Homo sapiens: one gene and its partner. The protein of the gene in region 2 interacts with the protein of the main gene of each other region in a pairwise test. Each region holds a gene or a part of one and is shown on either strand. Other genes may lie near its edges.

Region 1 (3,825 bases), on a different chromosome or scaffold from region 2:
CTCCTCCTTTCATTAAATCCGTAACAAGGTAAACATATCTACCATCATCAAAGACCTACAAAAGAACGCAGTTTTAAAATGTTATTATTTATAATTACAATTCTATAATTCTTAAATTAGATTTTAATTATATTTACCTTTCTACTAGACTTCCCTCTAGTATTAGAAACAAAAAAGACATTATTCCTTTACTCTTAATGCAGTACAGGCTGTACTAAAGGTTGAATTGGCTAAACAGTCACCTACACAGTCCCATGAAACCATGTTAAACATATAATTTTATTGCCTTTTGAAGTTATAGGTTGCAGTTCATCAAAGAAAGAAATTAAAAAATAGAACTCTGTGCCTCTCAAATGACCTCTATCTCAATTTTTTTACTGTATTATAGCTACTTCTCTTCCCCAAACGTAAGCTTCTTTCTGAAAGTAAATACATTATTTATTTTTTATACCCTTCCCTCAGTTCATTATCTGATTTGGTATCTTAAATACTGGTTGAATTCCAATAGTATACCAAGGAAAACAAATAAGAAAAGTATTTATACACTTTTCACTCAGGGCATGTATGATAAACACACACACACACACACCACAGTAGTTTAAAGATTACAAATCAAAGTGCATATCATTTTCTGACACAAATTGATCAAGGTGATAGTTGACTTTTCTGTCTTGTATAAAGAGAAAAGAACATTATCTCCTTATGTGAAAAGTGAGCATTCAGTAACATATTAATGAGTTATACATTCATTTTACAAAACTATAGACTAAGACTATTTCACTCCAGAAACAATCCATAATGCTATAGCCAATTACTATACAATCAAGAAAGTAAAATATTCAAGAATTTGGCAGATCCCCAGTCTCCTGTATCTTCTGTATTGATAGCACTACAGAATAATAATTGGTGTTAGCTACAATGTTAACTAGTTAACCAGCCAGAATATATTCATGTAATGAGGAAATTCTCATTTACCAATCATCATAGTTATTTTTGATATTCTATAAGACTAGAAGTATAGAATCATGGGAAAAAAAAGAATTAAAGTGGCAATTTAAGAGTCCTGAGATTTTTGAGGCATGAAAATAAATATGCTAAAGACATTAAAAGTTTCAATAAGAAAAATAAAGTTCCAATTCATAACTTCATTAGCTTAGCTGATACCTAGATTTAGAAATACCTACATCCTTCAAAGTAATAATGTTGGGATGTTGTCCATAGCGCATCAATATTTCAATCTCTTCTGAAGGGTCTCGCTTACTTTTGTCAATGATCTAAGAAATACGAAAAAAGAAAAATATCTGAGGCAAACAAATTATTTTGTCTAAAATGAGTATTTTCCATTTGGTTATATTTTTGAAGAAATGCTTAAAAACTCAAGAACAATACTTACCTCATATTATTTTAACATTTAAAAACATAAGTAAAAAACTTAACAGAAAAAAATAAAATTTTAACATTATATCCTATTTCACTGAAATTGTACCAATGATGACGTGATTGTAATTATCACAACTGCTCAATCTTAACATAATACATGTATAACAAAATTATTCAAATGCAAAAATTCATGAAATACACTGTTCCTACATAACAAAGGCTTGAAAAGAAATTCAAAAATGAAAATATTAAGTCTCAGAGTTCTTTCTCATCATCTTATCTTTCCTATCTTCATTTACTCCACTGAAAATGTTTGTCAGTTGACTCATAATTTAAATTACATGCATAAAACAAACAAGAAAGCTAGGCTCAGAGACAATACCTTCACTGCAAATTCCATGTTGGTAGTTGCATGTATGCATCGCTTGCAAACAGAGTAGGAGCCAACACCAATATCCTCCTTCAATTCATATACTTCACCAAATTGTGCAGCATTTCCATTTATCTGTTTATTTTTAAAAAGTAAAATACTAAGGAGAATGAAATATTTTCACATTTTCTGTCTTTTGTCCTAAATATACATTCATCTTAAGCCTTAAACTAGAATAATTCATTCTACAGAAGTTTTATCGACATTTATAAATGGCGTGAACCAATCCTTTCTTGATACCCACAGGCAACATAATAAAGCAACTAGCTTATACATCACCCTTCTATTTTATTCAAAAGAGGCCACATAAATATAATTAAAAGTTACCACTGTCTGCTCTTTTCCAAAACACACAGGGACATATTTAATTCATGATTTATACCAATAGATAAACAAAGAAGTTAAAAATCACTTTAAAAAAAACGATTAAAAATACATCAGCAATAACAGAGAAATAATTATCCCAAAACTGAATAATGTGATTAAGTGGAATTTACCTGAACAATTGGTAATACATTTGCACTTGTGATAGGAGTGATTTTATATTCTTCTGCAATAGAAGTTGCAACAAAGCTGAATCCTTTGAAGAGCTGATGAGCATTTGCACTGGCTGGCAAACCGGGAGAATCTAATGTCCAAATAATTACATTTAATTATAACTACACACAGAATTCTATGATATAAAGTGTCAGAATTTCTTTAACTATAAAGGAAACCATTAAATGCTACTAACATATTATATATTTGATTTATTATATATTATCTGTCTCCTCCCATCTGTATACATGCTCCATTTTAGTCAGTATTTTTTGTCTGTTCTTTTCACCACTGCATCCTCATTGCTTAGTACATAGTAGGTATTCAATATTTCTTGAGTGTATGTATGAAACTGTAAAAGACAGAGTAATATATCTCACGTCTTACCTCCTACCCCATCCTGTAAATCATTAGCATGCCAAAGGACTTATAAAACAAAGAAATAAACTTGCCACCCTTTGACCAAGTTCCTTCCTTCCTGATAAATATTTCCCATTTAAAACATCTACTTGACAGCTGCCCAAGCAATGTTTTGTATAGGATCCATATTTCCCATGGACAAATCAACTCTCTGCAAATTTACCATTCTTTTAGTTTTTACTTCACAAGAAAGTTTATTTTTAAACTATCTACTTAAATAAAATCTCTGATTTTACAGATAAACATGCATTACCTTTAGGTGTTTTTGCAGTAAATTCAGGATCAAAACAAAAAGTATCATCTGGTTTTCCAGAAGCAGGTTTGAAAGGAGGTTGAACTTCTCTTTTATATAATTTCTAGAAGGGACAACCAGATAACACAAAACGTATTAAGACTTTAAAAATTATTATACTTTGTAAAACAAAGCAGAACATAATATTCACAGTCCATAATAGAAGACTAACAATTTCATAGTTTCAGATAACTGTTAACCAAATTCTAAAATTTTGAGAGATAATGTTCAAGATGTAATGAGGCCAAGAAACATAGCAATGATGCCACAAGCTGAATTCACAAGGAATGCTCAATTTTGGATATCAGAAGTTTTTGAATGCTCATTGATAATATAACCATGCAAATACAGCACAGTAATAACTAAAATGCTCAAGGCTTTCAAAATCAATAATTATTTTTAAAAAGTGCATATTTCATCTAAAATATTGTTTTCACATAAAAAATATACGTTAAATGTACTGTTTAGGCTTGTATCAGATAATTGAAAATTTAGTCGTCTAACAATCTATCTTGCTAAAATCTATGCTTTTGAAAGGCATAGAAAATTTCTAATAATATATAAAAGCCACTTCTTTTGAAATCTATTTTTTAAAAAGCTTACAGTCCCACAGTGGGGAAAAATAAATAGGGAATTACTTTTGAGTAATTTTTATGTATTTAAATATGTAAACATGACTTTTAGTTCATTATGGCTTACTAGAAACAGCTAGTGGGCTAGTGGATGCCTCTCTCATGGTGAGGAATCAAAATAGCAATAAATATTG
Region 2 (3,825 bases):
GAACGACAGGGTCAGAGGGTCTGCTGGCCCCAAATCCCTCAAGATTAACGCCCTATTCCTGATGACACAGCGTGGGGACGAGGAGCACCACATCTGCTTGTGACTGGCTACTGAAGACCTGAGATCAGGAGGGCTGGGAACTGAAAATGGTCTCCGTCGACCTCTGTGGACCCGCCCTTTCCAGATCCTCACAGAACCGCCAGGTCAACTGATCAATTTTCTGGCCACCTTCAGCCACTTAGGACCCAGTTCCACTTAAACACTTCCCATTTAATTCAAAGCTCCTCACCTGACCCAGGGCCAGAGGGACAGCTGTCCCCTCCCCTCCTTCAGGCCTCTGCCCAGATGTCACTGTTAATTGGCCTCCCAGGACAGCCAATTAACACTGCTCCCAGCCCCCACTGTGCCCACCGTGCCCTGCATCCACCTGAGCAGCAATCAGCGGCTGACATTCCGTGTTTTCACTCATTTATCTGCCCCTGTCCATCTCCCCTGTTACATGTGAGCTCCGTGAGGGCAGGAGTTTTGTTTTATTCACTGTTGTATCTCTGGCATCTAGACTAGGACCTGGCACAGAGCAGGTGCTCAAAAATTATTTAATGAATGGGCCAGGAGCTGTGGCTCACACCTGTAATCCCAGCAGTTTGAAAGGCCGAAGTGGGCAGATCACTTAAAGTCAGGAGTTCAAGACCAGCACGGCCGACATGGTGAAACCTTGACACTACTAAAAAAACAAATATTGGCCGGGCGCAGTGGCTCATGCCTGTAATCCCAGCACTTTGGGAGGCAGGCAGAACACTTGAGGTCAGTAGTTTGAGATCAGCCTGACCAACATGGTGAAACTCCTTCTCTACTGAAAAAACAAATACTGGCCGGGCACGGTGGCTCAAGTCTGCAATCCCAGCACTTTGGGAGGCTGAGGTGGGCAGATCACTTGAGGTCAGGACTTCGAGACCAGCCTGGCCAACATGATGAAACCCCGTCTCTACTAAAAATACAAAAATTAGCCAGGCGTGGTGGCGTGAGCCTGTAATTTTAGCTACTCATGAAGCTGAGGCAGGAGAATTGCTTGAACACAGGAGGTGGCAGTTAGCTGAGATCACACCACTGCACTCCAGCCTAGGCAACAGAGCAAAAACACTGTCTCAAAACAAAACAAAACAAAAATTAGCCAGGTATGATGGCGGGCACCTACAGTCTCAGCTACTCAGGAGGCTGAGGCAGGAGAATTGCTTGAATCCAGGAGGCAGAAGTTCCAATGAGCTGGGATTGCACCACTGCACTTCAGCCTGGGCAACAGAGCGAGACTCCATCTCAAAAAGAAAAAAAAACATATATATATGTGTGTGTATATATATGTGTGTATGTATATATATGTGTGTGTATGTGTGTGTGTGTGTGTGTGTGTATATATATACACACACACACACACACATTCAATGGACCGGGAGCAGTGGCTCAAGCCTGTAATCACAGCACTTTGGGAGGTCAAGGCGGGCAGATCACCTGAGGTCGGGAGTTCAAGACCAGCCTGACCAACATAGAGAAACCCCAGCTCTACTAAAAATACAAAATTAGCCGGGCATGGTGGCGCATGCCTGTAATCCCAGCTACTCGGGAGGCTGAGGCAGGAGAATCGCTTGAACTCAAGAGGTGGAGGTTGTGGTGAGCCGAGATGGCACCATTGCACTCCAGCCTGGGCAACAAGAGCGAAACTCAGTCTCAAAAAAAAAAAAAAAAAAAAAAAAAGGATTTAATGAATGAATGATGAGACTGTTGGTTACATCTCCCACCTTCTCCCTCTCACTCCACTGCAGCCACACGGGGCTCCTCACTGTTCCTGTAGCAGCAGGCATGTGCCCCCACAGGGCCTCTGTACTGGCTGTTCCCACTGCCCGAACACCCTCATGCACCATCTGCACTGTCCAATACGGCCGCCTCTGGCCACACATGGCTACTGAGCAGTTGAACATGGCTGGTCCAAACCAAGATTTCCAAGACGTCGTATGGTAAAAAATAACATAAAATCTTGCAAAAATGTTTCTATTGATTATGTTAAAATTGTGATGTTTTAGGTATATTAGGTTGAATCAGCTATTTTATCAAAATGAATCTCACCTGTTTGTTTTTGCTTTTTTTTTTTTTTTTTTTTGAGATGGAGTCTCGCTCTGTCGCCCAGGCTAGAGTACAATGGCATGGTCTCGGCTCACTGCATCACTGCAACCTCTACCTCCCAGGTTCAAGCGATTCTCCTACCTCACCCTCCCAAGTGGCTGGGATTACAGGCGTGTGCCACCACACCCAGCTAATTTTTGTATTTTTAGTAGAGACAGGGTTTCACCATGTTGGCCAGGCTGGTCTCGAACTGCTGACCTCGTGATCTACCTGCCTCAGCCTCCCAAAGTGCTGGGATTACAGGTGTGGGCCACTGTGCCGGCCATGTTTCTCGACTTCTGCTGGCAAGCATGTTCTAGTATTTGCATGGCTCCTAGCCCTCATCTCCATTTCTCTGCACAGATGTTACCTTCCCCATGAGGTCTGCCTTATACATGAGGCCTGTATTACAAACTGCAACTCCCCATTCCCCAACCCCGTTGTTTCTTCTCTCCAGAACACTAGGCACCATCTGATCTACTATGCCTTTTCCTTATTGTCCTAATGTATTGCTGGTCTTCTTCACCAAAATGTCAGCTCCCTGAGGCCAGAGATTTGTGTCTGTTCTGTCCACTGCTATATGCCCAGCACCTAGAACAGTGCCTGGCCCAGTGAAGAGTGAATAAATGAACTGGACCCAGGGAAGAAACAGACTTGCCCCCAGGCCACTCAGAGAGTGAGCTGTGCCCATACCCGCTCCTGGGGCCCTGAGTGATCAGGAGGGGGGTGGGTACTCACCAATCACAACGTCCACAGGCAGCTGGGCTAGCAGGGACCCAATGGGTGTGAGGGCCTCTGAGCTGTCCAGGGCCCCCTGGTCCCGGAGGTAGAGGATGGCGGTTTCCAGGCTGGCTGGTGGTGGGGGCTCGATGAAGGGGAAGGTTCGGGGGTCCCCCACACTCATGCTCTTCATCTAGAATGAGAAGCAAAACCCCCAAGATTGGGGAACACAAGAGCCACTGTGCAGCACAGCGGGGCTCAGAGATCACAAATTCATGACGTTTTAAAATTCCTAGTGTTGGCCGGGCGTTGTGGCTCATGCCTGTAATCCCAGCACTTTGAAAGGCCAAGGCAAGCGGATCACTTGAGGTCAGGAGTTCAAGACCATCCTGGCCAACATGGTGAAACCCCGTCTCTACTAAAAATACAAAAATTAGTGGTGGTGCATGACTGTAATCCCAGCTACTCGGGAGGCTGAGGCAGGAGAATCGCTTGAACCCAGGAGGTGGAGATCGCAGTAAGCCGAGATCGCGCCTCTGCACTGCACTCCAGCCTGGCAATACACCGAGACTCCATCTCAAATTCCCAGTGTCAGCCAGGCACAGTGGCTCATGCCTGTAATCCTAGCACTTTGGGAGGCCACAGCAGGTGGATCACTTGAGGTCAGGAGTTTGAGACCAGACTGGCCAACATGGTGAAACCCCATCTCTACTAAAAATACAAAAATTAGCCAGGTGTGGTGGCGAGTGCCTGTAATCTCAACTACTTGGGAGGCTGAGGCAGGAGAATTGCTTGAACCTGGAAGGCGGAGGTTGCAGTGAGCCGAGATTGCACCACTGCACTCCAGCCTGGGCCACAGAGTGAGATTCTATCTCAAAAATAAAATAAAATAAAATAAAATAAAATTCCCAATGTCAAGATCCACTGTGCAGAGGCAGGCAAGGAGGGCTG

What was found.
Region 1: the proteins of DHX34 (region 2) and RPS6KA6 interact in a two-hybrid assay, tested with the Homo sapiens proteins (one large-scale study listed by BioGRID and IntAct).

What each region holds. Positions count from the first base shown.
Region 1 is NC_000023.11:84,104,603-84,108,427, forward strand, and holds part of RPS6KA6 (ribosomal protein S6 kinase alpha-6), read right to left. Parts: intron 3,124-3,825; coding exon 3,021-3,123; intron 2,439-3,020; coding exon 2,308-2,438; intron 1,886-2,307; coding exon 1,763-1,885; intron 1,275-1,762; coding exon 1,185-1,274; intron 56-1,184; coding exon 1-55. UniProt on the Homo sapiens protein: Constitutively active serine/threonine-protein kinase that exhibits growth-factor-independent kinase activity and that may participate in p53/TP53-dependent cell growth arrest signaling and play an inhibitory role during embryogenesis.
Region 2 is NC_000019.10:47,366,223-47,370,047, reverse strand, and holds part of DHX34 (probable ATP-dependent RNA helicase DHX34), read right to left. Parts: intron 3,068-3,825; coding exon 2,893-3,067; intron 1-2,892. UniProt on the Homo sapiens protein: Probable ATP-binding RNA helicase required for nonsense-mediated decay (NMD) degradation of mRNA transcripts containing premature stop codons. Promotes the phosphorylation of UPF1 along with its interaction with key NMD pathway proteins UPF2 and EIF4A3.